4 linked regions of the Homo sapiens genome follow. The protein of the gene in region 2 interacts with the protein of the main gene of each other region in a pairwise test. Each region holds a gene or a part of one and is shown on either strand. Other genes may lie near its edges. The genes, in order: PTPN12, PTK7, MTMR6 and TPTE.

Region 1 (9,048 bases), on a different chromosome or scaffold from region 2:
CAAAAAAAAAAAAGAAGAAAAAATGTGTTAGAATTAAAGGGCATAAATTTTTATATAGAGCGTATACACCAAGCTTGATATACACCACCAAATGTGATGGATAAAAATAAAATTGTTAAAAAATATAGTTTTTTAAGTTACATTATGAAATTATAGAACATCCAACATAAGAACCTTGCTTAGGTTTAGAGTAAGATAAAAATAATGCTGAAATTTGGAGTAAGTTTTTTTAAATTAAAAACTTTGAAAATACTCGATTAACAAACCCATATATCATACTCGATATCTGTCAAGCACTGTTCTAATTGTTGTTCAGATGTTAACTCATTTAATTCTCCTAACTACCCTGTGAAAAAGGTACTGTTAAGGATATATGGGGTTTGTTAATCAAGTAAATCTGTAAAATACTGGTCATGAGGCCGGGCATGGTGTTTCACACCTGTAATCCCAGCATTTTGGGAGCCTGAGGAGGGCGGATCACTTGACGTTAGAAGTTTAAGACCAGCCTGGCCAACATGGCGAAACCCTGTCTCTACTAAAAATACAAACATTAGCCGGGCGTCATGGCGCGTGCCTATAATCCCAGCTACTTGTGAGGCTGAGGCAGGAGATTCGCTTGAACCTGGGAGGCGGCGGAGGTTGCAGTAAGCTGAGATTGCACCACTGTACTCCAGCCTGAGTAACAGAATGAGACTCTGTCTCAATAAAAAATATGTAAATAAAATACTGATTATGGAAAAGTGGTCTCACCATGTACACGTAGGGAAAATAATACACCTCAATTTATATCAAAATTTTATCTCATCCTTTTAAAACTCATATTTTCTATTTGTATTATAATATGTTCTTAGGATAACCTATTGGTCTTTGCATATGCTTTATAAATTGTAGGAGGTGTCTGCAATTATTTTTGTTTTAGATCGCAAAAATTTGACAGCCACTCTTTCAGATTAAGAACCAACTTGTAGGCCAGGTACAATGCCTCACACCTGTAATCCCAGCTCTTTGGGAGGACATGGCAGGTGAATTGCTTAAGTTTAGGAGTTTGAGATCAGTCTGGGCAACATGAACATGGCAAAACCACATCTCTACAAAAAATACAAAACTTAGCCAGGTGTGGTAGTGCACACCTGTAGTCCCAGCTGCTTGGGAGGCTAAACTGGGAGGATGGCTTGAGCCCTGAAGGCAGAGGTTGCAGTGAGCCAAGATAGTGCAACTGTACTCCAGCCCAGGTGGCAGAGCAGGACCCTGTCTCAAAAAAAAAAAAAAGAATCTACTTGTAAAACTTGAACAGATATAGGAATATCTTATGAGAGTATTGCTGTCATTTTAATATGATCAGTATTCTGGAGATATTCATTTATCTTCTCATGTCCTAGGAATGTGGGAATGTGTCTAGAGAATCTGAACTTCACAGAGTCTTTATTTATTTATTTTATTTATTTTGAGACAGAGTCTTGCTCTGTCACCTAGGCTGGAGTGCAGTGGCGTGATCTCAGCTCACTGCAACCTCTGCCTCCCGAATTCAAGTGATTCTCCTGACTCAGCTTCCTGAGTAGCTGGGATTACAGGCGCACGCTACCATGCCTGACTAGGGTTTTGTGTTTTTAGTAGAGACGGGGTTTTGCCATGTTGGTTAGGCTGGTCTCAAACTCCTGATCTTGTGATCCGCCTGCCTTGGCCTCCCAAAGTGCTAGGATTACAGGCGTGAGCCACCATGCCTGGCCCACAGAGTCTCTTTTAAGGGGAAACCTGGTGTACCATGTGATTACTGCCAGTTATCTGGTTGGATAAAAAAAGGTTGATCACCTGGGGGGAGAAAAAAAAGCAAAAACTCTGAGGTGGGGTCCAGTGGCTCACCCCTGTAATCCCAGCACTTTGCGGGGGCCGAGGCAGGCAAATCACTTGAGGCCAGGAGTTGGAGACCAGCCTGGCCAACATGGCAAAACCCCATCTCTACTAAAAATACAAAAATTAGCCAGGTGTGGTGGCATGTGCCTGTAGTCCCAGCTACTCAGGAGGTTGAAGCACAAGAATTGCTGGAACCCAGGAGGTAGAGGTTCCAATGAGCCAAGATGGTGCCACTGCACTCCAGCCTGGGTGACAGAACAAGACTCTATCTCAAAAGAAAAACAGAACACAAAAACTTAAATATACAAGCCCTCAAGAAGTTTGCTTCATATAAAGTTCTTAAAAAGCAACAAAGCCTGGGCAACATAGTAAACCCTATCTTCTTCTTTGGTTTTTTTTTTTTTTTGAGACAGGATCTCATTCTTTCACCCAGGCTGGAGTGCAGTGGCATGATCAGAGCTCCCTGCAGCCTTGACCTCCCCAGGCTCAGGTGATCCTCCTACCTCAGCCTTCCTAGTAGCTGGGACTACAAGCATGCATTGCCACATCCAGTTAATTTTTTTGTATTTGTTAAAGACACAGGGTTTTGCCATATTGCCCAGGCTGCTCGCTCTCTCTCTCTCTCTCTCTCTCTCTCTCTCTCTCTCTCTCTCTCTCTCTCACTCTCACTCTCACTCGCGCTCTCTCTCTCGCTCTCTCTCTCTTTTTTTTTTTTTTTTTTTTTTTGGAGACAGTCTTGCTCTGTCGCCCAGACTGGAGTGCAGTGGCGTGATCTCAACTCACTGCCATCTCCACCTCCTGGGCTCAAGCAATTCTCCTGCCTCAGCCTCCCAAGTATCTGGGACTGCAGGTGTGTGCCACCACACCTGGCAAATTTTTGTATTATTAGTAGAGATGGGGTTTTACTGTGTTGCTCAGGCTGGTCTCAAACTCCTGAGCTCAATTGATCCACCCACCTTGGCCTCCCAAAGTGCTGGGATTACAGGCGTGAGCCACCATGCCTGGCCCCTATTTCTTTAAGGAAAAAAATAAAGGCAACTAGAGGGTATAACCCACCCGAACAAAGGAGTATACCCAGAAAGAGGAAAATGAGACCTGGGAAACAGGAGAATCTGAAACCAGAGAGAACATTAGCTCTGTGATGGACTAGGGAACCAGTAGTCCACACTGGAGCAGGAGGCCAAAAGTTACTAACAAGGATGTCTGTGGTATTGATACTTACTATGTGTGCTTGTCATTATTGAGAGGAGGTATACCAATCTGCAAGAAAGTTAGAAGAAAAGCTGAGTAACTGATGATGCATAGAGAGCTAAGCCATCAGAAATCCAAGGCAGTCATTAGGGGAAAACAAGACACTATAGAAGAAAAGATACGAAATCATGGTGTCATAGATGGGAATACTATCTGCAGTCATACGACTGAGGTAATGAAAAATTACAATATAACAGTATTGGAAAGATAGAGAAGGACACTTCCACAGTAGGAAGTCAGTAGAAAATGTGTGAAACAAAGATCAAGAAATAACTTTTGAAATAGTCTGAAATACAGAGGTGTAAATTTTAGAAGCAGCTATAAAAAAATGTTGAAAGTTGATGCCTCTGGCTAACAGGAGGGCTGCGGGGCAGAGACTATGTTTTTCATTCAAAGTCTTGTATTTGACTTTTTAAACAGTATATGTGTATTACCTTGATGAACATTAAATTTTCTTAGTCTGAAAAACTGCAGTTTTTATTCGCAACCAGATTGTAATGGCTCTTAATATGCTACTCTTAGCTACATAATTCTCAGGTATCAACTTGTTTAACAGTCTTAAAATGCCCTTTTTAAATGTTTGTTTTTCAGTTGCCTTGTTGAAGGGGATGCTAAAGAAGAAATACTGCAGCCACCGGAACCTCATCCAGTGCCACCCATCTTGACACCTTCTCCCCCTTCAGCTTTTCCAACAGTCACTACTGTGTGGCAGGACAATGATAGATACCATCCAAAGCCAGTGTTGCATATGGTTTCATCAGAACAACATTCAGCAGACCTCAACAGAAACTATAGTAAATCAACAGAACTTCCAGGGAAAAATGAATCAACAATTGAACAGATAGATAAAAAATTGGAACGAAATTTAAGTTTTGAGATTAAGAAGGTCCCTCTCCAAGAGGGACCAAAAAGTTTTGATGGGAACACACTTTTGAATAGGGGACATGCAATTAAAATTAAATCTGCTTCACCTTGTATAGCTGATAAAATCTCTAAGCCACAGGAATTAAGTTCAGATCTAAATGTCGGTGATACTTCCCAGAATTCTTGTGTGGACTGCAGTGTAACACAATCAAACAAAGTTTCAGTTACTCCACCAGAAGAATCCCAGAATTCAGACACACCTCCAAGGCCAGACCGCTTGCCTCTTGATGAGAAAGGACATGTAACGTGGTCATTTCATGGACCTGAAAATGCCATACCCATACCTGATTTATCTGAAGGCAATTCCTCAGATATCAACTATCAAACTAGGAAAACTGTGAGTTTAACACCAAGTCCTACAACACAAGTTGAAACACCTGATCTTGTGGATCATGATAACACTTCACCACTCTTCAGAACACCCCTCAGTTTTACTAATCCACTTCACTCTGATGACTCAGACTCAGATGAAAGAAACTCTGATGGTGCTGTGACCCAGAATAAAACTAATATTTCAACAGCAAGTGCCACAGTTTCTGCTGCCACTAGTACTGAAAGCATTTCTACTAGGAAAGTATTGCCAATGTCCATTGCTAGACATAATATAGCAGGAACAACACATTCAGGTGCTGAAAAAGGTAATAATATAGTGTCAAATACTTAAATGTCTTTCCTATGTGCTAGTCACTGTTTTAAGCACTTTAGCTGTATTGATTTATTATGTTTTATTCCACACTCTACCATAGAACCTACAGCAAAATCTGTCTTAGATACTAATTTTTTAATATAAGCTTTTAATGTATTGTTAACAATTTGGTCACATTATATTACTGGGTTTTGTGTTTCTAAATTATTTTAGTAGTTATAACTGGATAACTTATTTTCTTTTTCTTCTGTATTATAGATCTTAGTGTTTTTGTATCGGTCAAAAATTTATCTGACTGAATAATTAGAAATAATTTAGGGAAGAATCACTTAAAATAACAGTGGCAAAAATACTGTAGAATGTCTTGATTGGCCATATAATGTTACTCGTTTTTCCTAAATGTTTAGTCATTTTTTACTGTTCCTTTAACTACAGATTACATTTTTTTGTTTGTTTGTTTTTACTGTCTTCACAAATGCTTCCAAATATGGCTGCTTCCAACCCTGAGTTTAACCCAGGAACAATACTGCAAACTGCTCAATTCAGTAGTGAGTGGGCTATATGCATACCTACTCATCAAAGCTATTATTTAAAGAATTATTATTTTTTTAGCACTCTTAGCATTTCAAGATAATGCATGCACTCAGTTCCCAAAGTGTATTATTGCTTCTTGAAACTCCTCTTTGATCTGCTGAAAGTAATGATGGCTACCATCTTAAACAGACCCTAAGGTTGAGAGTAAACATATAAATTTGAAAGCTGTTTATTGATATATTGATTATCAGTGGTCACTTACCTATCAGTGAACTTTGGTAGTGACACATACAGACTGGTATTTATAACGTGCAGGCAAAATAAGTACTGTGACCTTGAAAGATTTTTTTTTTTTTTTGAGACTTGCACTCAAAAGATTTTTTTTTTGAGTCTTGCACTGTCACCCAGGCTAGAGTGCAGTGGCAAGATCTCGGCTCAGCCTCCCAAGTAGCTGGGATTACAGGCACCCACTACCACACCCAGCTAATTTTTATGTTTTTAGTAGAGACAGGGTTTCGATATGTTTGCCAGGCTGGTCTCAAATTCCTGGCCTCAAGTGATCTGCCCACCTAGGCCTCCCAAAGTGCTGGGATTACAGACGTGAGCTACCACACCTGGCCTTGAAAGATTATTTTCTATTTCTGACCCATTATATACCACCCATACTGTAGTGCTTGTATTTTCTCTCACACATACTGTATTTTTTAACTTGAGAGAGTGTATTTGGTAGACTAGATGACAGTCTTTTTGAGACAGAGTTTTGCTCTTGTTGCCCAGGCTGAAGTGCAGTGGCGCAATCTTGGCTCACTGCAACCTCCGCCTCCTGGGTTCAAGGAATTCTCCTGCCTCATCCTCCCTAGTAGTTGGGAATACAGGCATGCGCCACCATGCCTGGCTAATTTTTTGTATTTTTAGTAGAGACAGGGTTTCACTGTGTTAGCCAGGATGGTCTGGATCTCCTGACCTCGTGATCCGCCCACCTCGGCCTCCCAAAGGGCTGGGATTACAGGCGTGAGCCACCACGCCCAGCCAGGTGACAGTCTTAAACTATTTGCTTAAATTACAGAATTATCTTTTCTTGATTTATCTTTGTTTTATTTGAAGGATCTTTAGAAGATAATGAATAGTATAATATTACTTTACCAGTTTACCATAATTTTAAATTGCTAATGTCTTTTGTTCCTCAGCTTCAGAATTTGAAATATAACTGCCCAGCTGTAACTATATAAGAAAATATGTAGATAAGAAATTTTCATTTTGAGTTTTTAGTATATCAAGCATGTGGTATTGTACCTAGGAAGTTTTATTGTTTTTTTGTTGTTGTTTTGTTCTTTTGCTTTTTTTTTTAAAAAAAACCAAAAAACCATTACTGGAAATAGGATTTGGTGAGGGCCAGAAAGATGTATGATGTGATATGCTTATTAAAAGTTACTACTACATGACGAGTCTGTTGGTGGCTCATGCCTGTAATCCCAGCATTTTGGGAGGCTGAGGCAGGAAGTTCACTTGAGCCCAGGAGTTCATAACCAGTCTGGGTGACATAGTGACACCCAATCTCTACAAAAGATAAAAAACTAGCCGGGCATGGTGGTGCACACTTGTGGTCCCAGCTACTCTGGAGGCTGAGGTAGGAAGATCACTTGAGCCTAGGAGCTCAAGGCTGCAGTGAGCCATAATTGCGTCCCGGCACTCTGCCTGGGCAACAGAGGGAGACCCTGTCTCAAAAAAAAAAAAAAAAAAAGAGTAAGATATAGCTAAAAGCACCCTACTATGTGCCAGCTCATTTCTGTTTGTTTGGTTTTGTATTTCAAAGCAAAAATCACTATACATGTGATTTCTGGTTTCTTTTTACTCAACCTTAACTATGTTATTGGTTTGATTTTAACCGAAGATTTTCCTGTGTGTAAATGTTCTTTGTTGCAGCATAACTACAAGTAGTCTCATTTTTAATGTGTTGCCAAATATTTACCATATGGATTATTTACTTTATAGATTGTTTATTTACCTTATAGATTATTATTTCCTTTGTAGATCATTATCTTATAGAGCCATTGGCACCAGAATTAGAGTTTTGGGGGGTTTTTTGGTCCTAGAACTTGTTAGTGAATTACAGTCACACATTTCTTAATGGCAGGGATATGTTCTAAGAAAAATATGTCATTAGGCAGTTTTGCCATTGTGTGAATGTCATAGAATGTATTTACACAAACCTAGATGGTATAGTATATACTACACATCTGGGCCATACAATGTAACCTCTTGCTCCTAGGCTACAAACTTGTATAGCATATTACCATACTCAACAATTGTAACACAATGGTAAGTATTTGTGTATCTAAACATAGAAAAGGTACAGTAAAAATATGGTATCATAATCTTACAGGACCGCTGTTGTTTATGCGGTCTTGTTGATGAAAACATCATTATGTAGTGCATGACTATAATGGAATACTTTTGTATTGATACCTAAAAAAAACTTTTGCATAAGTTACTGCCTGACAAAAATTCTTAGCTATCAATTCTAATTTCAGTCTTGACTTAGGCCTCCTGAAAGATTTCTCAGATTCAACTACAGAAGGCCCCATACAGTGTATGATTTGCAAAAGCCTATATAAAATACGCAATATCTGGTTGGATAACCTCTAAAACAAAAGTTTTTAACAGGAAAGGCAGCCCAAAGTTCCAGGGAGAAACATGCATTTGCAAAGCAAGGGCCACGCTTAGAAAATAAAAGTTTTTAAGGGTGAGAACTGCCATGAGAGAAAAAGCACAGAGTTTCTGGAAGATAACTGATAGAAAAAGGGCTGAACTGCCCTTTTTGTTTTGTTCATTTAATTTAAGAAATGGTACCAGAATGCCAAGATTATGTGTCCCTTCCTTCCAACAGCCATCTCTTCACTGTGCGCTGTTAGTAGCAAGAGGGCAAGGAGACATATGGTGATGACTCAGACTACCACTACTGGATAAGGTAGATAGTTCTTTAGTGGCAAGAGAGAGTTCTGGTACTCTTGGTAGATGTATCAAGTATTGGACTGGAACTCCTCTTTCAGGAGGACCCAGAAGCTGTATTTTCTTGCGTCTCCAGCTAAATAAATGTAGGTGGGGCAAAAGCAATCATACTCACCTCATGCGTGTTGAAAATTGACAAGACCTATGCATAGCCATCAGGTGTGGTAAAATAGCAGAGTATCATGGCAGAACTGTGTGTTCATTTAAGAACAATGGGCAAGGCTCAAGACAAAATAATACAGGACCGTCGCATTTCTTTTTCTTTATCCCACCCTCCCCAACCTGAGAGTTCACACACAGGATTGTATTCTTATATTTTCTTTCTATTCCTCCAGTGAAAACTCAAAGATCAAATACACTCATTTACCTTAAGCCATAATAAAGCTAACCAATGAGGCTTACTTAATGCACTCTCTTTCCCAAGAGCTAATTTTGTTTTTACTAGTGAAAAACCTGTATATAGCTTCAGTCAGCATTCTCAAAGTACAGCCATGTGCCACTGTACACAAAATCTTTAGCAATAAATAAATGAAGATTTTTTAAAAAACTTTAATAGCTATATCTTTATCTGTTTTGGAAAAATAACTAGTATTTCCAATGTTATTTCAGTTATTGCTGTTTAAGACATGACTGAGGTACACAGTTAAGTTTAAAATGAGTCAGATTTTAAAAGTGAATAGGACACATGTTACATAGTATGGCAAAAATCATGAAAGGTGTTAAGCAATTGAATCCTGTTTGGGAAACACTGGCTTAGGCGTTTCATAACGCAAATGACCAAAGCTTTCCTTTTTGGACACAAAACATCATCAGTAAGCTCAGTAGAGAAGTCA
Region 2 (9,048 bases):
ACTGCAGCTTCCACTTTTGCCCTCTCGGAACCCAGCTGCCAGGTGAGGAAGCCTGGCTAGCCTACTGGAGATGCCATGTGGAGGAGAACTAAGGCACCCTGGTCAATAGCCCCAGTCAACTGCCAGACAGGTGAGTGTGGCCGCCAGGGACCAGGCCAGCTCACCCATCAGCTGACTGCAAACGTGTACACCCAGCCGATAGCACACCAGGTAGACGAGCGGGCCCACCTGAACCTGTCCACAGAATCATAAGCATGTCAACGGCTGTTGTTTGTTGTTTCAAGTCACTACGGTTTGGTTTTTTTTTTTTTTGAGTTGGAGTCTTGCTCTGTCACCCAGGCTGGAGTGCAGTGGCGCGATCTCTGTTCACTGCAACCTCCACCTCCCAGGTTCAAGCGATTCTCCTGCCTCAGCCTCCCAAGTAGCTGGGATTACAGGCATGTGCCACCATGCCTGGATAATTTTTTTTTTTGTATTTTTTATTTTATTTTGAGATAGAGTCTCGCTCTGTCGCCCAGGCTGGAGTGCAGTGGCGCAATCTCGGCTCACTGCAACCTCCGCCTCCTGAGTAGCTGGGATTACAGGCACATGCCACCACACCTGGCTAATTTTTGTATTTTTAGTAGAGACGGGGTTTCAGCACGTTGGTCAGGCTGGTCTCGAATTCCTGACCTCGTGATCCACCTGCCTCGGCCTCCCAAAGTGCTGGGATTACAAGGCGTGAGCCACTGCACCCAGCCATTTTTGTATTTTTAGTAGAGATGGGGTTTCACCATGTTGGCCAGGCTGGTCTCAAACTCCTGACCTCAAGTGATCCACCTGCCTCGGCCTCCCAAAGTGCCACCACGTTTTGAAGTGGTTTGCTATGTAGCAATGGATAACTGATGCCGAAGCCAAAGTCCTTACTATGCTTTTACAAGGCCTATGGGATTTAGTTTCCACCTCTCAGGCAACTTCAACCCCTCTCACCATCGTTTATTCAACTCAAGCCACACAGGCGACTACTGTTCCTCCAACATACAAGCCCATTTCCATCTCAGGGCCTATCACATGGCTGGCTCCCTTCTTAATTTAAATACCAACTCCAATGCACCTTTTACAGAAGTCTTCCCTAAACTCTCACTGGCCCTGCCCTTTCTCTATCACTTGCCCTATTTCATTGTTCTCCCTTGTTCTACTGGCACCTAAAATTATATTTGTTCATTTGATAGTTTTTCTTACTGGCTTTGTCCCCGCTGTTAGAATATGAACTCCACAAGGAGAGGGGCTTCTGCCTGCTTTGTTCACAGTTGCATCCAGTACTGGGAAGAGCTAGCACAAGGTGCTCGACAAATCTCTGTTGACTGAATGCATTCCCAGAGCTCTCCGTCTTCTGGGCTCTACCCTCTAACACCCAGCACCTGATCTGGCCCTGTTTGCATCACACACTCTCAAATGCCACAGGCCTCCTTCTCAGAGCACAGCAAGGGACACTGGCATGGCTCAGTGTCAGCCTCAGTCAGCATCTGTGGAATGACTGATCAAAGCCAGAGTTCCCCAACTTGAACACACATGAAGTATCACCCAGAGCACTTGTTAAATACACATCTACCTGGGTCCCACCCCTAGAGCCTGGGTTGGAAGCTGTGGAGTGGGGCCCCGAATTCTGCATTTTTTTTCTTTTTTTCAAGGCTCCAGCAATGTCTTAGACATTTTTTTGGAGACAGGGTCTTGCTGTCATCCAGGCTCCAGTACAGTAGTGTGATCATAGCTCACTGGAACCTCCAGCTCCCGAGCTCAAATGATCCTCCAGCCTCAGCCTCCCAAATAGTTGGGATTATAGGTGTGCATCACCATACCTGGCTAAATTTTTTTTTTTTTTTTTCCTGAGACAAAGTCTCGCTCTGTCACCCAGGCTGGAGTGCAATGGCACGATCTCGACTCACTGCAACCTCTGCCTCCTGGATTCAAGCAATTCTCCTGCCCCAGCCTCCCAAGTAGCTGGGATTACAGGTGAGTGCCAACATGCCCAGCTAATTTTTGTATTTTTAGTAGAGACGGGGTTTCACCATGTTGGTCAGGCTGATCTCGAACTCCTGACCTCGTGATCCACCCACCTCGGCCTCCCAAAGTGCTGGGATTACAAGCGTGAGCCACCGCGCCCAGCTAACTTTTTAAATTTCTGTAGACACAAGGTCTCACTATTTTGTCCAGCCTGGTCTCAAACTCCTGGGCTCAAGAGATCTTCCTATCTCGGCCTCCCAAAGCACTGGGATTATAGGTGTGAACCACCACGCCTGGCCTGTGTTTTAAAAAGTATCCCTAATGAGGCCGGGCATGGCAGCTCACACCCATAATCCCAGCACTTTAGGAGGCCGAGGCAGGTGGATCACTTGAGGTCAAGAGTTTGAGACTAGCCTGGCCAACATGGTAAAACATCGCCTCTACTAAAAATACAAAAATTAGCCAGGTGTGGTGGCACACACCTTTAAACCCAGCTACTTGGGAGGCTGAGGCACGAGAATCACTTGAACCTGGGAGGCGCAGGTTGCAGTGAGCCAAGATCACACCACTACACTCCAGCCTGGGTGACAGAGTGAGACTCCGTCTCAAACAAAAGAAGAAAAAGTATCCCTAATGAAAGCAGGTGATTCTCAGACCTCAACTGGAGGAAGGCTTGACTGTGCATCTTGCCTTTGCACCTGCACTGTGAGTGTCCTGAGCACTCGTTACACATGTGCTGTGATTCCCACCCAAATCACGGCCTGAGTATAGGTGCATGTCTTCTAAGATTTCAGTATCCTAATGGGAATACTAGCATCACAACTTCACATTTACAAAGCCACTTTCATATTCAAATCTTTTTGCAAAGTTACCCACTCGGAAAGATAATAGTAACATAAAGGTAAGTGGAAGAAGCAGATTGCAAAATAGTTTGTATGTATGTGTGTCTCTGTGTGCATATTGTAATTTTTATTGTGTATCCTTTTAAACTACCACAAAAGGTTTGGAACAAGGCATGGTATAAAGAAATAAGTAAACAAATAAATCCCTATGCCTGTAGTGAGGATATAAGGTTTGTTTTGTTTTGTTTTGAGATGGAGTCTCACTCTGTTGCCCGGGCTGAAGAGCAACGGTGCGATCTCAGCTCATTGCAACCTCTGCCTCCTGGGTTCAAGCAATTTTCCTCCCTCAGCCTCCTGAGTAGCTGGGATTACAGGTGTGCCCCACCACGCCCAGCTAATTTTTGTATTTTTAGTAGAGATGGGGTTTCACCATGTTGGTCAGGCTGGTCTCCAACTCCTGACCTTGTGATCCGCCCGGCTCGGCCTCCCAAAGTGCTGGGATTACAGGCATGAGCCACCGCGCCCAGCCTGATATAAAGGGTTTATCATGTGTACTTTCAGTCATATGTCTTGCTTTTCTCCCCCTCTTTTTTTTCATAAGTAATATGTTTAGTAAAGAAATTTGGAAAGCATAACAAACTAAAACAAATTAAAAATCACCTATAATTTTGTCCACTATTACCTCCCAAAAAAGAAAAAAAGAAAAATCATTTTCATCTACTTCATTTGACCTTTCCAACCACCTTGTGGGGTAGGTAGTAGATTACTGGCTCCATTTTATGGATGAGGAGACTGAACCCCAGTAAGGTGGGTGATTTGCTACCATCGTCACTCTGTGCATTGGGAGCATAGTGGGACCCAGGTCTCTAGATTCCTAGTCTATTGCTCTTTCCTCTGTACCCAGAGGACCATTTTTCTGTGAGGGCTGTCACTATTTCCTCTGGAGCACCCACCCTAACCCCTGTGCCTGGCTCTCTACTGTCTACACCGACTCCCAGTAGTGAACTGATTCCCAAGCCTGCAGGGCCCAGAACTGAGAGGACCTCAGGTGAGTACCAGGGAAGCCTCTGTCCATCACACCCAGACCTGTGTTCCCCTCCACCTCTCCTTGACCTTCAGGGCAAAGGTGCTCACTGGCCACAGTGATGTTGACATCCTGTCTCCGCTGACCAGCCAGGTTGGCCGCGTGGCAGGTGTAGACACCAGCATCACTTTCAGCAATATTGGCCAACACCAGCTCGTGGCCCTTCTGGTAGACCCTGCCATGGGTGGGCAGCCGGACTCCCGCGTGCTCCCACCACACGCTGGGCTCTGGCAGACCCTTGGGGGGAAGGCAGGTCACACGCTCCTCGCTGCCAGCTGTAAACACCCGTGGCTCAAATAGCGGCATGTCTTCAATCTCTGCAAGGACATAAGTAGGAGGAATGGCCCAATTATTGTGGGTCTCAGGGTACATGATGTTCTCCCACAGCAAGCCTAGGCCCTTTCCCAGCACAAACCCTCCCCTGCAGCCCTCTGCATATCCTCTTCCTACTCCCAGCATCCTTTTCTTCCCCTGCCCTCCAAGCGGCTGAGTAAAAACAGAAGCCTAAATCTCTATGTGCCAAAAATGTTAAAGGCAGCCTCCCACATCAGCACCCCAGACCCAGAGACTCACCTGCTAGGTGAAGTGTGGCTTCCAGGATGATGGGTGGGCCCCTCTGCCCCTGGCCAATGCAGCGGTAGATCCCTGCATTGCGTGGCCGGACCTGGGTCAGCAGCAGAGACCCGTTGGCAAACACTGTGGCTCTGCGGAGGTGTGGGGGGCTGCAGAGGGGAGAGTGCAATTTGGAGAAAGTGGCCAATAGGCCTAGTTCTGGAAAGGAATGCAAGGGAACCCCTTTCCTGCAAAGTCGGAAATGTAGTAAGGAATCGACCAGGAACAGGGCAGAGAGAAGGAAGCTGACACTCCAGACTGGTGTGTGTGCCTGCATACACTTGCTCAGGTGCACGTGCAGGTGTGTGTTCCAACTACAGGAGATCAGCTCGGGAAGCAATGAGGCAAATGGCAATGCAGGTGCGAGAGAGAGTGATATGGTTTGGCTGTGTCCCCACTCAAATCTCATCTTAAATTGTAGCTCCCATAATTCCCACATGTTGTGGGAGGGACCCAGTGGGAGGTAACTGAATCATGGGGGCAAGTCTTTCCCGTGCTGTTCTCATGATAGTGAACAAGTCTCACGAGATCTGATGGTTTTAAAATGAGGCATTCCCCTGCAGAAGCTCTCTCTCCTTTGCCTGCTGCCATCCATGTAAGACGTGACTTGGTCTTCCTTGCCTTCTGCCATGATTGTGAGGCTTGCCCAGCCATGTGGAACTGTAAGTCCAATTAAACCTCTTTCTTTTGTAAACTGCTCAGTCTCGGGTATGTCTTTATCAGCAGCATTAAAATGGACTAATACACAGAATAACCACCATGTGCAACTGTCAAGACAGGGAAGCCACCTTCCCACAGGGCCACGTTGATAGGGCACCCAGCTCCAGGGTCAGATACCCCTCAGCCATACCAGGCAGGCTACTGATGATGTCCTCAGGGCTGAAGCCAAGTGGCATCCAAGCCCCTAGCCTAGGAAGCCACACCCCCAAGGACCATGGTCGTGCCTGACACTGCAAAGGTGTTCTATGTTCTCCTAGGGTCCAGGCAAGAACAGAAGTCCCTGCAGTAGGGCTGGAACCTTCTAGAGGTGTTTGCTTCCTCTAAAAAGTGTGTGTGTGTGTGTGTGTGTGTGTGTGTGTGTGTGTGTGTGTGTGTGATGTCTTTGCCACACTGGATCACGCTATCTAGACTATGACCACCTGACTACCTAGGTCTCTTGTGTCTCTCTCATCCCTGGGGTCTCTACCCTTCCATCCCAGAAGACCCATGTGGGTGGTGGGGAGAGAGAAGTGGAACCATCACTAGCTCAGAGTGCCTTTGTGCAAACTGGAAAAGGGCTCTTCCCAGAGACTCTTCCCTGTGTCAGACTCATCTTGTAAAAGCAAAACATTCAACTGTGTCTCTTGGAAATTTGAAATAATACATGTACAAATCTGTGATGTCTGTGATACAAATCGCACCCCCTTCTACAGAATGCATGTGTGTGGTACATGGTACTGGAATGCTCCCAGCCAGATGCCTTACCGACTGCGGTTAGTGATGGGAGTCTCATCCTCAAAGAGCCACTGCAGGCTCGGGGGTGGCTGGGCTGAGAACTGGCAATGGAACATGGCCTCCTCATACCTCGCTACTACCACGTCCTGGGGTGCCAGCACCACCCTGGCAAAGCTTTCATCTGGAGAGGGAAAGATGGGGGAGCATGCAGCCTGGGTGGTGAGGCCCTCCTGTGCTCACCTCATCCCTTCCGCCCCCACCCCAGGCTCACCAGCAATGCTCAAGGTGAAGTTCTGGCTGCTGCAAGCCTGGCCAAAAGCACTGTGGGCGCAGCAGGAATACAGCCCACTATGCTCAGGACCAGCTGGCCGGAGCGTCAGGTTCCGCTCCTTGCTGCTGACTGTGTGGTTGCTCTGACCATCAGAAAGGGGGGTCCCATCTCGGAACCATTGGTAGGTGGGCCTGCAGGGCAGACACAGTCAGCAGTGGTGGGGAGGGGTACTCAGTGGCCAGTGGAGAGGATACAGTATCAGAGGGTCAGGGCTAGACCTTTCAGTTTATACATGGAGAAACGGCCTGAGGAAGGGAAGGGACTTGCAAAAGGGCACACAGTAATTCTGATTCAGGGGCAGAATCAAGTTGATATTAGATCTCCCAGCTCTACACACAATGTGGCTCACTCTTCAGGCCACCAGGGGCCGGCATAGGGCAATATCTGGGGGAGGGCAGGGTGAAGAGCACTGTGGTGGTGGAACGAGTGGTCACAGAATGGAGCGAGGTAACATCCGCATAGAGTCCAAGATTTGGGGAGACATCCCTGTCCGGAATAACCCTCTTCATCCCCACCTCCCTGACTCCTTACCGAGGGTGCCCATCAATGTGGCAACGAAGTGTGACCTGGGTCTGTGGCTGGATCTCAGCTTCCGAGGCTGGATGCTTCAGGACCACAGGACCTGCCTCAATCCCTGTAGCAGAGGCCACGGTTGCAGTGAGGGGCAGAGCAGGGCAAAGGCGGGAAGGCAGAGGGCAAGGAGGACAAGCAGGAAGCCGTGGAACCTCGAGGCTCTGTGCCAACAGACACAAGGAAGCCCTGGAGGCTGAGGCTGGGGCTACAGTTACCAGATACTAAGTGCCTGCCTGGTCCCTGGCAGGTCAAGTCTGACACTTGGCCAAGGGCTCGGCCGCCCTTTCCATTTGCACAAGCATGCAGCAGATAAATGGGTCCCAGACTTGAAGGAAAAAATTTTGGAAAAAATATAACTTTTAATTTCCTCTTATCCACATGAGCAAAAAAAGCTGATGATAAATGCATTCTGCCTGGCCCGTTTAACTGGAAATGGGAGAAGCTGAGGTAAGGGAGGGATCCCCCAGGCCTCAGTCATTGAGGGTCTGACAGGGGGACTGGGCACAGCCCCCCTGGCTCTCACATTTGATGTTGAAGGAGGCGTTGGCACTGCGGGCTTCTTCTCCAGTGACATCATCCCGAGCCACACACTGGAAGGTGCCAGAGTCCTGCAGCCGGTCCACAGCTGCAAAGCTCAGGCTGCTGCCCTGGGCGAAACGCCGCTCCGTGTCCTGGACAGGGGCCCCATCGAGCAGCCAGTACACATGTACCGGGCCCGGAGCCTCAACCTCACAGCGAAGCAGCGCCCGGCGCCCCTGCAGTGCATCCTGGGAGGACGGCTGCTTGATGAAGACAATGGCTGTCTGGGTACCTGTAGATGCAAACAGGGGAGAGGCAGGGTCAGGGGGAGCTGCAGCCTCTGTCCTAACACAGGCCACCTTGTGCACAGGAGGAAAGGGGCTGTGTACACAGGAGGCGTCCAGTAAGTGCAGGTGTGAAGGATCATGATGCCACAATTGCAAGAGTCCCCTGAAAAACTTTTCTTTTTCTTTTTGAGATTTCTTTTTCTTTTTTTGCTCTTGTCACCCAGGTTGGAATGTGGTGGTGTGATCTCAGCTCACTGCAACCTCCACCTCCTGGGTTCAAGTGATTCTTCTGCCTCAGCCTCTCGAGTAGCTGGGATTATAGGCATGAGCCACCACACCCAGCTAATTTTTGTATTTTTAGTAGAGACAGGGTTTCGCCATGTTGGCCAGGCTGGTCTCGAACCCCTGACCTCAGGTGATCTGCCCACCTCGGCCTCCCAAAGTGCTAGGATTACAGGCGTGAGCCACCACGCCCAGCCCCCTGAAGAGCTTTTCAACTGTGCTGAGTGCTCTGTAGGATACAAAGACACAGTAGCCTCTCCTCAAGAGGTCTGAAGACTAGAGGGGCACACAGAACACAGTTACAGTCACATAAATGCCAAATGAATGGGGTGGGCAGGCAGTAGTGACTTGAGCACGAAGGAAGAAGGGACCCCTAAGGGCTGGCTGCACAGGGAGGCTTCCTAGCAAAAGAGAGTCTGGGCCTGCAGGGTGAGATCACAGGAGGTTTTGATGCCAGGCTGAGGAGCCGGGGACACTGCAGGCCACCTTCCCCCAATACAGACTCAGGAGGTTTAGTAAAGTTAAATCATGACCCAAACAGCACCCTGGAAAGATGGCTTCACTCATGCCCCTCGACGGTGCCAGCATCAGAGGTGGCCACAGATGGGACGCTTTGAATCTCATCCGCAAATGCTCTGCAGCCCAACGTTTCCCAGACGCTTCTTTGAAAAAACCCAACCCATCACTGGAGAAGCCAAGATTCTCTAGAAACCTGGGCTACTGCCAAAAACAAGCCAAGGTCATTCCCATGTCCTGTTCTTTTTTTTTTTTGAGACGGAGTCTCGATCTGTCACCCAGGCTGGAGTGCAGTAGCGCGATCTTGGCTCACTGCAAGCTCTGCCTCCTGGGTTCACGCCATTCTCCTGCCTCAGCCTCCCGAGTAGCTGGGACTACAGGTGCCCGCCACCACGCCTGGCTAATTTTTTGTATTTTTAGTAGAGATGGGGTTTGACGGTGTTAGCCAGGATGGTCTCGATCTCCTGACCTCGTGATCCGCCCGCCTCGGCCTCCCAAAGTGCTGGGATTACAGGCGTGAGCCACCGCACCCGGCCCCATGTCCTGTTCTTTATCCCTGAAAATCCATCTGTGGCCAAGGTCAGC
Region 3 (5,815 bases), on a different chromosome or scaffold from region 2:
ATCACTTGAACCAGGGAGGCGGAGGTTGCAGTGAGCCGAGATGGCACCACTGCACTCCAGCCTGGGTGATCCAGCGAGACTTGTCTCAAAAAATAAAAATAAAAATAAAAAATTCTTTCATCTTTACTCCATTCCCTGAGCTACTTCTACTCTGGCTGACCTGTTTAAAACATCCTCAACAAAAATACCCTCTTCTCAGCCAGTCATTTTCTTCCTCATATTTACAACCAGATCTGTCTTTGGAGAAACATTTCACCTTGAATGTTTGTACTCACTGGACCCTGCTGTTTCCGGAGGTTGTTCCTTCTGGTGGGTTCCTGGTCTTGCTGACTTCATGAAGGAAGTCACCTTCGCAATGAGTGTTACAGCTCTTAAAGGTGGCAGGAACCCAAAGAGTGAGCAGCAGCCAGATTTATTGTGAAGAGCAAAAGAACAAACCTTCCACAACGTTGAAGGGAACCCGAGTGGGTTACTGCTACTGGCTGGGAGGGTTTGGGGTGCGGGGTGATCAGCTTTTAATCCCTAATTTGTCTGCGCCCATGTCCTGCTGACTGGCCCATTTTACAGAGTGCTGATTGGTCCATTTTACAGAGTGCTGATTGGCCCATTTTACAGAGTTCTGATTGGTGCATTTTACAAACCTCTAGCTAGCCACAGAGTGCTGATTGGTGCGTTTTTACACAGCACTGATAGGTGCATTTTACAAACCTCTAGCTAGCTACAGAGTGCTAATTGGTGCGTTTTACGATCCTCTTGAGACACAAAAGTTCTCCAAGTCCCCACTTGACCCAGAAGTCCAGCTGGCCTCACCTCTCACTGCTTTCCAGTGTATGTGTACTCACTGGACCCAGCACTTCTTTTAAAAATGCCAGCAAGGCCGGGCGTGGTGGCTCACACCTGTAATCCCAGCATGTTGGGAGGCTGAGGTGGGGGGTCACGAGGTCAGGAGATTGAGACCATCCTGGCCAACATGATGGTGAAACCCCGTCTCTACTAAAATACAAAAAATTAGCCAGGCATGGTGGCACGTGCCTGTAGTCCCAGCTACTCAGGAGGCTGAGGCAGGGGAATTACTTGAACCCGGGAGGCGGAGGTTGCAGTGAGCCGAGATTGCGCCACTGCACTTCAGCCTGGCAACACAGCAAGACTCTGTCTCAAACAAACAAACAAACAAATGCAGGCAAATAAGTGTAAAAAGTTAAAACAAAATTAGAGAATCAGCATTTTGTAACACCAAAGAAATAACTGATTTGGGCAAGTATAATTAATGGATAGGTTGTTAAGGAAAGGGATATTCAATTTGATGCCAAAATATCACCCCATAGAGCATTTGCTGAGTTCAAAGGGAAAAAATGTATCTTTACAATGAAAAGATAACCAAGTGATTAAATTTAGCGTCACTAACAATGGAACCACCTGGCATTATATCCTCCCGCAGTAATTCAATATTAAGTACACAGCATCTTTCCTGAAATGCTAACTCTGAATTTCATCTAGTACCTACTTGACAGCAGGTACAGTAGACAGAGGAACAAGTTAAATTACACCACGAAGAAACAATCAGACAAAAGCAGAAAGTGGGAAAACTACAACTGGTCTGGTGCAAAAGGTCAATGCAGAGGGGAAGAGGTGACCGGCTGTTCAACACAGAGACTGATGAGCTACAACCAAATGCAATGCACAAACCTCAGCTGGCTACTGACGCAAAATAGCAGGACAAAGGCCATTTGGGAACTAATGGAAAAACAGAAATTTGTACAAATGGTTTCATCCCTCAGGAGGGGCACGCTTACACCACAGTAACAAAGAGCCCAAATTCTCAGTGGCTTAAAACAAAGGTTTATTTCTCACTCCCACTTGTATCACAATGTTTCAGAAGTGTGATGCTCCCTAGCCTGTTGCTCTTTATACAAGAGTAATTCTGAGGTGGGGCGTGGTGGCTCACGCCTGTAATCCCAGCACTTTGGGAGGCCAAAGCCAGTGGATCACCTGAGGTCAGGAGTTTGAGACCACCCTGACTAACATGGAGAAACCCCGTCTCTACTAAAACAACAAAATTAGCCCGGTGTGGTGGTGCATGCCTGTTATCCCAGCTACTCCGGAGGCTGAGGCAGGAGAATCACTTGAACCCAGAGGCGGAGGTTGTGGTGAGACAAGATTGTGCCACTTTAACTCTGTCCTGGGAAACAAGAGTGAAACTCCGTCTCAAAAAAAAAAAAAAAAAAAAAAAAAAAAGAATAATTCGGCATCCCTTTAAGAACAAACAAGATGTTTACTGACCATGATGGGTGGTTTACAGCAGTGTTTCTCAAAGTATGATTCCCCAACCATTTGCATCACAATATCCAAAATATTGCTAAGTGCAAACAATTTATTGGTATGCAAATGATTTTAACTCCAGAGTCCCAACCCCTAACTACTGAATCAGAAACTGAACACCAGGGCTATAGAGTCTACTACTAGCTTCTGAAAGTTCCTTTCAGTTATGCAGGCCACTATTTTATAAAAGTTGCCATTTAAATGGATATTTTACTTTCCTAGAAATAACTAGAGTAGCACAAATACTGTTTATTAAAATGTCAAGGTTTCATGTTTACATTTTCTTATATCAAGTACAATGGTATATATACTTTTTTTTGAGATAATTATTCTAGATTCCAGGCTTTCTTCTAGATGTAAGTTCCTAAAGCTTATAGTTTACATTGATATCTAGACATATATCTTAAACAGTCTCCAAATTTTCTTTAATTAATCAAAGTATGTTAATGTCACTTGGAATTCTACATGGAAAAGCCAACAAAATAACTAAAACTTGACTAATGAAGATCAGCGTCACTAATAAAAGTCTGCAACTGTAGTATTAGGTTGGTGCAAAAGTAATTGCGGTTTTTGTCATCACTTTCAATGGCAAAAGCCCCAATTACTTTTGCAGCAACTATATAGTTTTATAAATGATCAGCATTTAATCCAACTTAGCATGTCAACTGGAAATTTTTCAATATTTTAAAGCTGACCTTCTGCAAAAAATGTTTCAAAACAGGCTTGACTGACACCACCTCCCTGCTCTGCTACCCGACCAAATAAATTGAATTTGTTTTAAAAGAGTTCCCTTCATCTTTACTCAAGATTCCCTGAGCTACTTCTAGCCTAGCTGACCTTTTCAAAACACCCTCAATAAAATTATCCTCTTGTCAGCCAGTTATTTTCTTCCTCATATTTACATCCAGATCTGCCTTTGGAGAGACATTTCACCTCGAATGTTTGTACTCAATGGACCCTGCCTTCCATCAAGTTGGCAAGGGCACAAAAAAATAGTGATTGTAATATAAGCAAGTGACAGGAACAAAATGAAAACTTAATGACATTATTACCTACATCTGATGGGCCTTTTAGCCCACTATACCTATTTTAAATATTCTGGAAATTATTTTTGTATGAAACAGGTATTATTTATCAACAAACTTTTGGAAAATAAACTCCTCAAACCTTATGCTGTTATGTTAATGTAATGGGCAAGTCTACTTGCCTAGGTGAGAAGAAAAAAAAAACAACTACAACTTGATTCCATTTGTTTTATCCAGAAGAAAAACATTCAAAGTAAAATGTGAACATTTAATTACCTTTAAATCATATATGAAGTAATTTACATGCTATACACTTCCAAACACACTGAACATAAATTCAACTTTATAAGACATATACACAGTCTGCTTTTGCCAACATATACCCTGTAGGTCACTTAAGATGTAACTGATTTCTCAGTCCACCTGTGAGCATATAAACACACAAATATATGTCTGAAGTTGAAGATTAAGATAATAAACCAGAGTTGAATACAAGAAGTCAGCCACAGAAGATTCTAAAACCACAATCAGTGACTGGAACACCAAGGCACAAAAACTTCCCTTTGTAGTCACAGAGATTAAGTTTCCATTCCCAGTGCTTAAATATGGAAGCAGGATTGGTTAATCACATACTATATTTTATAGTGCATTTCTGTTGCTGTTTAAAAAGGAATATTTTTTAAATTACATAATGTATTACAGAAAAGCATTGGAAAAATAAACAGGATAAGATAAGCTCTCATACAATAAAGTTTTTTTTGGTCTGAAAAAGATGTTTATATTCAAAACTAATATAATAGAGGTGTAACAGAAAGTAGCATGAGGAACACTATGCAAATTGCCTAATACTCGAATTGTACTTCATGCCACCATGTTATTTAAATTTTCAATTTTAAAGCCAGTTGGGTGATATTGCTAATTCCAAGTGATAGTTTTGGGGTTTTTATGTTTTGTTTCTTGTTTTTTGGTAATTTAAAGATATGTACTAGTACACAGAATAAACAGTAAATATAACATGGCAAAATGAAATCTTTCCCAGAGTTTATGTTGCTTTTGTTAAACAGTAACTTTGTACTAGAATCTCTTTTTTTTTCTATATTTAACAAGAAGAAAAATAATGCTCCACATAGAAATGACTTCAAAATTCATGCAACCATGCACAACCTAAACTATCTGTACTTCCCTTTTTTATTTACCCAAAAGTTTTTGAGTAAACTGAAAGTTAGATACTCCAGGAACAGCAACTCATTGAGCAATAAGGCAGTTTAAAAATATACATATACATGTACTATTCATTGTTTCTCAGAACAGTTTTAGAGCTTTAGCTCTTTAAACTTACACAGTTGTGAAAGAAATAAAGCCAACCACAAAATAAGAATCAATGGAATGCAGTAATCCATATATAAAAGACAGTCAAATGTGCTTATACGTATTCAAGAAATCAATATTCTAAGCTGTAAATAATAAATTATCAAATGTAGCACTAAACAAATTATGATCAGAATAAACCTTCAGTTTCATTAATTTTGAATACAAAAGTGGGGCAGGCTAAACGTGAACAGTGTACTTCTACAAGTGTTTATATAGAAGTATTGTAGCATGCACCCCCAGCAGTAATGAGAGCACAATTCTTTACAAACAAAACAAGGCTGACCAGAAGAAAAACAAAACAAAAAATCTTGTTGTAGGCTGTAAAACTTAAGGGTAAAGAATCCACTGGGAATTTAAGGCTTTCTTAGAAATATTTTTCATGGCACTTTAACATTAAATATCACTAAAAGGCAAAATATGTAAATATTCATAGTTACAAAGCTACATAATTGAAAGTACATGCCATATCATTTATTAAGAAACTATGTTGTCAAATTTTGTTTTCTTGAAGTTAAATTGTACTTAAGGAAGGTTATTTATGTTTGGCTGAATTAACATAAATCATAAACGTCAATTCACTAGTGTACAGTGCAAATTGTGTTTTGAGTAAATACATCAAATACCACTCATTTCTTACAGAACTGAATGTCATTCCTTGCTGGAAATGCAATTAAAATGACTTATTTCTCTCACAAGGGTAGTTATTATCCTTCCTTCAACTATTAGCCTACTGTTAAACCCTAAAATTGTTATTAGACAAATTCCTTTTGGTTATGCTTACAGACCATCCTCACAATAATCCTTTTCTTGTACTGCAATCATTGCAGAAAAAACTCTATGAGTCTAACAAGTCATTCTTGCCACACCATACTCTAAGCTGACCACAGCAGGTTCTGATTTAGAAAACTCTTCTGCATATTCACTATAACGATTATCTGCCGGGCTGCTGCCCTCTATAGTTCGAAGAGCATCATTTACGGGTAGCAGAGTCTGCTCTTTAAAACACAGGGAAGTTTTGAGGTTAGGTGATTCAGGATGAACTGAATGTAACAATTCCTTGGTGAGGATGCCATCTGTTTGCTTATTTTTGCGTTGTTTAA
Region 4 (9,048 bases), on a different chromosome or scaffold from region 2:
AGTAATAAGGAAGCAAAACATAAGGAGGTAAGCATAAGTCACTGAACTGGAGAAGAAAAAACCGTGGAGAAGATTAACAAAACAAAAGTGTGTATCTTTGCAAAGATTACTACAATAGACCTGTGGCAATAATAATCAAGAACAAACAGAGTGAATATCCAAATAAAATGTACAAGAAGGGAGCATAACTAGAACACAACTAAATTTTTTTAAAATAAGATTATTCAATTATATGCTAATAAATGTGAAAACTTAGATGGAATGGAAAAATTCCTAGACGGATATAAAACACTAACATTAGTGCAAGAAAATATATTTATATAGAAATAGAATACTCAAGTAACAAAGAAATCAACCTAGTATTTAAAGCCCTTCCCTCTCCCAAACACCACAGGGCCCACATAGGTATTTTTCAAAATTTTTTAGAATATTGACATACTTACTACAAAATCTATGTCAACATATAAAGGCTCCATTAATAACTTAACTAATCATGCTAATAAAAAAAGGTGTAGGGATGCCATAAGTATCAATGGACCAAAATATTGAGCTCAGAGATAAACCTATGTGGATATATGTCATTGACAATGATTACATAAACAAGGAAAAAGGATGAACTGTTTCATAGATGGTATTTGGAAAATCAGCCTACCACTGGGAGACAAATGAAACCAAATCCCCACCTAACACCATATTGAAGGGTAGACTCTAAGTAGATTAAAGCATTAAATGTGTAAATTAAAACTATGAGGATTAGAAATTACCTTTGTAGACTGAAAGTGGGAAAATTTCAAACTTCAAAAGTAAAATAATAAGGCAAAAAGTTATTTCATGAAGAGAATGAAGAACAACAATGCCAAAGCTAACAGGCAGATGACGGATTAGAGCACATAACTTCAATGTCTCAAACTGATATGAAGGATGATTTGAATACATAAAGCGATAGTCCAAACTTTTGAATGGGATTCCATGCATCTGAGTCTGTTTAGTGTTGCCATAAGGGATACCTGAGGCTGGGTAATTTATAAAGAAAAGAGGTTTATTTGGCTCACAGTTGTGTGCTGCACAAGAAGCCTGATGCCAACATCTGCTTCTGAGGCTGCTCCCATTTATGGTGGAAGATGAAGGGGAACTGACACGTGCAGAGATCAAATGGCAAGAGGGGAATCAAGGTGCGGGAAGCCGCTTGTCTCTTTTTAAACCACCAGCTCTTGCAAGAACTAATAGAGTGAGTACTCACTCACCCTCACTCCAAGGGAGGGAATTAATCTATTCATCTTCCAAACACCTTCCATTAGGCCCCACCTCCGACATTGGGGATCAAATTTCAACATACGGTTTGGGGGTACAAATCTCCAAACAATAACACCATGTTTTTAATGTTACTAAAAAGAGTGAATTCTTGCTATATTGTTTACAGATGTAACATAATCACTTTGAAAATTAAACATAATTTTAAAAGAAATTTGATTAACTTATTCTAAAATATAAAATATTCAAAAACAGCACACGTAAATTAACAAGACAAAGATAGGAACACTAGTGGAAAAACGGGCTAAGTTCATGAATGGACCATTACAGAAGAAATCCCAAATGCTATAAGAACATAAAATGATGCTCAAATTCATAAGTTATCACATAAATTCAAAGTAAAACATAATGCAATATGTTACCATCTATTAGACTGATTATATAAATTGGAAAGTTTGATAATGTCAAGTGTTGTTGTGAATGTGTATGTGTAGGAACCATCATGCATTATTCAGGAGATGCAGACTGGTATAACCATTGTGAGAGCAATAGGCAGTATTCAGTCAAATTCAAAATATGCAATCCCATGGCCCATCAAGTCCTGTTTCATATTCCTACAGAAATACTCAAACAGGTCTATAGGGGTCTGGCATAAGGATAATTATTTAGCGGCACTCTTTGTGAAGGCAAATGGTAGGAAGCAATATATGTGTTCCTCACTAGGGGATGCATGCTGTGCAATTTTTCATACCAGTTAAAAGCAACAACGAAAGGTATGCACAAGAAGAATAATCTTATGTTACTATGCAAAAAACTAACAAAATGAGATACAACTTAATACCATTTAAGTAAATTTAAAAACATATAGGCAAAACAATAATACATAGTTTACAGAACACATATAAATGTATATACTGTGTATTAAACATATTAAAATTGTTGCATATGTGCATATATCTGTATATGTCAATATGTATATCTGTACTCTCATCTAGATATTAAAAAGGCCTACAAGTAGCAATGAGCCAATGGCAATCAGCATACCAAATGCAAAATATTGATTGGTTTCTAAAGGGCATGAGGTTCTTTGGGTAAATGGCTGATTCCAGGGCTGGGGAAATGCTCAAAAAGTGATGGGAACATGTCAAGTCAAAAGGACACAGGGGCTAGCTTTTAGGGAGTCCCACTGGCCAAATATGAGACCATTTAAAGATCAAAATAAATAATGACAGAAAGGATTGTAATTCATTGAAATAATGTAAGAATTTATAAGTTCATAGTAATAGTGAACAAATAGGGGTAGGAATAGCTCTCCTTATAATAGAATGATACTTATTAAACACAGAAAAACTACTTTTTTTAAAAAAAAAATCACCATTTTGTAATGATCACAGTTACAACTGATTCACATAAAAATCAATGAATGCTAAAACTAGGGCATGAAAGTTTTATGTGGAACAGGATACTGAACATTGAAAATAGTTTTAACATAGACTGAAAGTATCTCCCCCCAACATGGATATTAATTATAAACTGAATAATATTTACTTGTCAGCGAATAAATCTGGCAATACCTCTCAACCACAATAGAGATATGAACCATAAAACAGTGTAATATTCAATAGAGGAGTTACTTAATCTGAAAGTGGTATTCAATTCCCTCATCTATCCTTTAAAAGGCCATGAAATTATTTCCTGTCATCTCATATAAAAGATGTTGTAATATTCTAAGAGCTTGCATTTAGGTTGTCTCTGAAAAGAGTCTGATGAATAACTTAACAATAAGAAAGTGAATGCTGAGATTTTAGAGTGAACAGACATTTTAATCTCACAGTCTACTTTTGTGTTAACTCACCCCTCTCACATTTCAAAAATATCTAAAAGTAGCTGTTAGACATTCTATTAAGTCCTCCTGGTGAAAATGGAAATGTTTGGATATTCCATCTTTGCATCATCTTCCTATATCCCACTTTTAAACATTTTTGGCATTGAAACTTATCCTTCAAATGAACTTTTAGATATCACACATGCTTAGTAAACTTCAAATCTGCAAGTGGTGAACAGATAATCTGCACAGGAAACACTTTTTTTTTTTTTTTTTTGAGACAGAGTTTTGCTCTGTCATCGAGGCTGCAGTGCAGCAGTGCTGTCTCAGCTCACTGCAACTTCTGCTTCCCGGATTCAAGTGATCCTTCTGCCTCAGCCTCCCGAGTAGCTGGGACTGCAGGCATGCACCACCATGCCCAGCTAATTTTTGTATTTTTAGTAGAGACGCGGTTTTACCATATGGCCAGGCTGGTCTTGAACTCCTGACCTCGTGGTCCACCTGCCTCAGCCTCCCAAAGTGCTGGGATTACAGGCTTGAGCCACCATGCCCAGCCAGAAAACACTTTTGACAAACACACCAGCATTTCCTTTTGTAGAATCCTTGGGCCATATTAAGGGTATTGTTAAGCTGCCATCTCATAAAGTATACAGAATAAAACACTAATTTGGGGAGACGTTAAAAGGGAATAGTAACAACAGCAGCAGCACTTGTTTTATTTAAATGTGGAAAATTAATTCAAAATATAAAAAAATATTTTGGTGACTATATTGGTAATCTTACGATAAGAAGTAACTTTCTGAGTATAACACAAACAGCATCAGTTATAAAAGTACCAATTATATTTGAACACATGAAGCTTATTATAAAGCTCTATGTAAGGTTGCTGCATTTTACTTCAAACATCAAATGCAAAAATATATTAGAGATTTGCCACATGGAGCGGTGATATGACCAACTTATTTGAACAACAAAATTCCTTGAATCTAAAAGATATGGTAAATATGACTTAGCTTACTTAAAACCCAACTTTTTAGAAAGAATTTTAGAATCAGTGTCCAGAAAACTATTTTCCCATGAATAATTCTGAGACTGAATTTCACAAACCTGAATTCCTCCCATCTCCAATATATATTATGACATCCCCTTTCATTGTTGACTCCAGCACAGATTTCTGATGTCAATTCATTGGAGTCAGTGCAAAGGATTGAAAGGTAAATAGTAAGAAACAACATAAATGTATACACGATTTTTTTTTTTGGTTCAAATTGGCTATGATTGCGCTACAAATTACAATGTGTTGTCCCTAAAAATTCTCATGTAAATCTGTTATTTGGCACCTGGTACTTGATTTTTCTCTAGAAAGAAGTCTCTATGTGTTGGTAATAAAAATTGTTTAGGACTCTCAAAAAAGTTTAATGAATCAAGATTTAAATACAATTATTACTGAACCTGATCATCATGTGTGGCAGCAAATTTAACTTAAATTTCCTTCAAATTCATGTCCCATTTGTAGGCACACATTATTCTTGCCCATTTTGATTTCCTAATTATCAAGTCCCTCCACCACCTTCATGCTCTTCATGAGTCACAGATATCTTTGCTTCTCCTCAAATAGGATCAAGTGACTAAACCTGAGGCAGGGGCTCCATCCAATGTGATGATGGCTTTGAGTTTGGGGCACCAGCTCTGAAGGGTGAGGGACAGATACAGGGTCTCTTAGCTCCTTTCTTGCTGCTGAGGGCTCCTCTGCTGCCTGTCCAATGCTACCACCTTCTTTCTCCAAGTAGGATTCTCTCCTCTCTTGGACCACTCTTGAAGAGAGTCTCATACACAGGCATTCTGATAGTTTCCTAAGGTTTTGGCTGCTAATTACTTAGAGTCACAAACAATCTTTGAGTACCAAGCATCCTTCTTCTGACCTGATCTTATTTTTTCCACTCTGGTTCAAAAACAATGTTACCAAAGATGCTTAAAGTCTCTGATAGAAAGCTGTTATTGCCATTGATGCTCCCAGTATTTTTCACCACTTAGATCAGTCAACTCACCCATTGTGGTCATAGTTGTCAAGAGCATACAGTAGAATCTGGTAGTGAATCCATAACTCTACCAAAGAGTAAAAAGCACATACAAAAAATAAAGTCAGATATTTTGGAAGGCAATGAGGATGTTAATCTCAACAGTATTTCAGGACACAAAAAATAAAATCGGAGGAATTTTGACAAGAACTAAAGAAACAATTTCAGGATACAGCACTAGTACTTCTGAGACTGTGTGTGTGTGTGTGTCTGTGTGTGTGTGTGAGAGAGAGAGAGAGAGAGAGAGAGGGGACACAGAAAAAAGAAAGAAAATGTAAGAATAATGAATGTTTCTATATCAATGGCTAGTTCCCGGTCATCCTTGGTAGGAAATAAACAAGTAGATAAGTCAAGCCTTAATTATGTTTAAAACATTTTGTGAACTTAAAGTGGATTATGTGTTTACAATGATTTTGTTTTCTCTTTGTCTGGATTCATTTTTTTAAAGTTATATGGCTATGTTTTACAATATCAAGACTTCCTAGCACCGAAACCCCTGGCTTGGCTAATTTAATCTCTCTGCTACTTCATTTCCTCATCTGTAAGTTAAGACACATGCAAAATACACTCCACATCTGTCAACTTCATAAAACCATGCTGAATATTCAGCATTTTGCCAATATTGGTTTTTAGACAACCTGCTCTCTACACCATATATTATGCCATAAAAATCAGTATGTGGCAATATAAACGGATACACATTTTTAGTTTCAAATACACAAACATTCTCATCAAGGTAATACACTCCCAAGACTCAAGAATTAATGCTCTTCACCACAATTTTCTAACTTTTCAAACGTTTAAATAAGTTTAAGAAACTGATCACATACATTTTTTTGCTGCTGATAACAACTGGGATTCTCTAAGAGTGTGCTGAGGTTTCTTAACCTATTTGACCACAGAACCTCTTTCTCACAGTGGAAATGTGTGAGAAACACATTTTGGAAACAATATATTAAATGGTATCTTTTTATGTCTTTAAGAAAAGTTCCCCTACACAAACTAATTTTGGACTCTGATCAATAGCTCCAACCTTTAAGCACAGATAGACATTAATATTGTGCTAGTCTTTCAGCCTGTGAGGAAAGGAGTGCCAGAGTTCAAATTATCGCATCTCGTTAGCCTGGTCTGAGGGCCATGAGGGGAACCTTTCAAGTTCTAAGTGGGTGTTCTCATGTCCTTGAATGGCTCCTGGAAATTCATCCAGGTCTCAGGAAAAACAATAACCTTTTACAAAAAGAAAGGCATCTATAGGCATCCGCTACTTTTCAGCAGGATGAATAATTGGATTGTCTATGCAGAATACACTAATAAATCATAACAGGGGAAAATGTTCAAAACACCAAAAAGGTAAGAATTTGAGTTTCTGACATAAGCAGCCTTATTAAATGATTACTAGATTTTTCAGACATCCTCTACTGAGGAAGAGAACTGGAAGACACTCAAATTACTCCAGATTCAGGTGACAAGCCAGGATTGCTAAGCAAGTTCCTTGGGAAACTAATCTCCAAAAAGGGCACGAGACATCCATAGATGTTACCTGAACTCCAGGGAGAGTACTGCATGAAGTCTGAAATAATACTTTGATAAGCTGCTTTGGGGCACAGAATGACTTCCCTCATGGGACATGAATAAGTAACTAGCTAAATTGCCCCCTAAGGAAGGTGAGAATTGCAAACCGTCCTAAACTGAAGTGGTCATGCAGAATTCTTAAATGCTTTTTGGTAGATAGGAGCAACCACAGAAGTTTGAGTTAGCTGAAGGTTAGCTACACCTTTATAATCATGCTACCAGGTTATAATGAAAAGTAGGTCTCCGACCAAATCTGCCACACATACAGATATTCATTTAACAAAACATTCAGTAGCAAGCAGACACAGTATATAAGCTTCTGTAAGCTTTCCGCACTTTAGGTACTCCAAGCATGAAAGCTTCATTCTCAACAGATTCCTAATGTTTCAGAGGCCAAAATCTTCCTAAACGTTCCTGGAGATAGGACCATATGAGGATCAAGCCTTGGGTGTCGTCTCTAAATATACACTACAGGCCACCCTCATACACCTTTATCCTGTTTATGCAAGGGTGGGCTGTCTCCAAAACACGTTAGTTGATTCACAGATCTTAAAATGTCATATAATTGTAACATCCATCATGCTGCTTTGTAAGCCGCCAATTTCACTAATAAAAACCCATTTGTGACCTTCACTGTAATAATTAACAATGTTTCAGGTGTTAATTGAGATGGGACCACTGAAGCCCTTTTGGTGGCCATCTCTGTGGAGTGGCTTCCTGAGCTGAACACTAGCTTACCATCCTTGAACAGAGCATCCAACATTAGGGCAACCAGCTGCCCCTGTAGGAAAGATTAAAGTGACCAGTATATGCATATTATCACACTGCCTAAAATGTCATAGAATGAGGCTTGGTTTGTTTTTTAAATTTTTTCTATTTCTATTATTTTTCTATCGAATTATTTTTCTATTTTTATTTGCTGGGTCACAGACAACAGCAAATTCCATACCTTCAGAGTTATACCAGCTCATCTGCAGTAGGAGTAGAAATATCAAAGCTCTCAGTCTACCACCTTGTGCTCCAGAGATGTGGCCCAAGCACATCTTTGGACGTGAACCAGGGCAACCCAAGGCAGAGCTGGATTTCTGGGAGTTTCTCCCTATAAGCCCTGGACATGCTTACCTATACACCAGACTGCTTCCAGAGCCACTGCCGGGCAGAAGAGCCTGGGGTGTGTTCAGCTGCTAGAATAACACAAGTCTGAGGTCTTGTGTCGTCGGTCCAACATTCTCTAAGAGGGAGAAATTTAATCAAGATCCTGTTAGCAGTTTTCTCTCTTGTTGCCTTTCAAGATTATGGCTTTTCCTTTTTTCATTTTTTTAGTTCCCAAAACCAAGCTTGTTAAATCAAATCTTGACCCAATTCCTGGCAAGTAACAAGGTTATTGCTATTTGGCCTTACACCCACGGGTTGTCCCCCAGTACCGTGAGGGTAAGGGGACTCTGTAAGGTCCCTGGGAGGGGAAAGGAATGTCAATTAGTGGTCCCCCCAGCTGGGTATAAGCAAACTTTCCTGTCTATGGGCCGCAGAGACCACCATCTAGTTCCCCCGCCAAAACTTTACATGATTTTAATTCTCCTGATGAAGATGAGAGGATAACAGCCAACAGAGAGGGCAGAGGATGGGATGGGACTCCCTTGCTCAGAGACCTCACCTCTAGGTCTTTACCTCCTATTGAGAATAAGTCAGTTCTGTAGTAAGAACTCTGTGTCCACGGCAACCCCAAACAGAATCCTAGCGCTCTTGTGATTCTTGTAGAATGGGGAATAGAACGAGCTTGGCCCAAGACTGCACAGACTTAAAAACATACTATTCTTTGAAAATGGCAATCATTAAAAAGTCAGGAAACAACAGGTGCTGGAGAGGATGTGGAGAAATAGGAACACTTTTACACTGTTGGTGGGACTGTAAACTAGTTCAACCATGGTGGAAGTCAGTGTGGCGATTCCTCAGGGATCTAGAACTAGAAATACCATTTGACCCAGCCATCCCATTACTGGGTATATACCCAAAGGACTATAAATCATGCTGCTATACAGACACATGCACACGTATGTTTACTGCAGCACTATTCACAATAGCAAAGACTTGGAACCAACCCAAATGTCCAACAATGATAGACTGGATTAAGAAAATGTGGCACATATACACCATGGAATACTATGCAGCCATAAAAAATGATGAGTTCATGTCCTTTGTAGGGACATGGATGAAATTGGAAATCATTCTCAGTAAACTATCGCAAGAACAAAAAACCAAACACTGCATATTCTCACTCATAGGTGGGAACTGAACAATGAGAACACGTGGACCCAGGAAGGG

The links.
Region 1: the proteins of PTK7 (region 2) and PTPN12 interact in a two-hybrid assay, tested with the Homo sapiens proteins (one study listed by BioGRID and IntAct).
Region 3: the proteins of PTK7 (region 2) and MTMR6 interact in a two-hybrid assay, tested with the Homo sapiens proteins (one study listed by BioGRID and IntAct).
Region 4: the proteins of PTK7 (region 2) and TPTE interact in a two-hybrid assay, tested with the Homo sapiens proteins (one study listed by BioGRID and IntAct).

The regions. Positions count from the first base shown.
Region 1 is NC_000007.14:77,623,012-77,632,059, forward strand, and holds part of PTPN12 (tyrosine-protein phosphatase non-receptor type 12), read left to right. Parts: intron 1-3,693; coding exon 3,694-4,664; intron 4,665-9,048. UniProt on the Homo sapiens protein: Dephosphorylates a range of proteins, and thereby regulates cellular signaling cascades. Dephosphorylates cellular tyrosine kinases, such as ERBB2 and PTK2B/PYK2, and thereby regulates signaling via ERBB2 and PTK2B/PYK2.
Region 2 is NC_000006.12:43,127,599-43,136,646, reverse strand, and holds part of PTK7 (inactive tyrosine-protein kinase 7 isoform a precursor), read right to left. Parts: intron 7,671-9,048; coding exon 7,383-7,670; intron 6,921-7,382; coding exon 6,818-6,920; intron 6,418-6,817; coding exon 6,227-6,417; intron 6,137-6,226; coding exon 5,986-6,136; intron 4,632-5,985; coding exon 4,483-4,631; intron 4,227-4,482; coding exon 3,960-4,226; intron 1-3,959. UniProt on the Homo sapiens protein: Inactive tyrosine kinase involved in Wnt signaling pathway. Component of both the non-canonical (also known as the Wnt/planar cell polarity signaling) and the canonical Wnt signaling pathway.
Region 3 is NC_000013.11:25,243,674-25,249,488, forward strand, and holds the end of MTMR6 (phosphatidylinositol-3,5-bisphosphate 3-phosphatase MTMR6), read right to left. Parts: coding exon 5,559-5,815; 3' UTR 2,549-5,558; downstream 1-2,548. UniProt on the Homo sapiens protein: Lipid phosphatase that specifically dephosphorylates the D-3 position of phosphatidylinositol 3-phosphate and phosphatidylinositol 3,5-bisphosphate, generating phosphatidylinositol and phosphatidylinositol 5-phosphate.
Region 4 is NC_000021.9:10,523,489-10,532,536, reverse strand, and holds part of TPTE (putative tyrosine-protein phosphatase TPTE), read right to left. Parts: intron 7,958-9,048; 5' UTR 7,849-7,957; intron 5,183-7,848; 5' UTR 5,125-5,182; intron 1-5,124.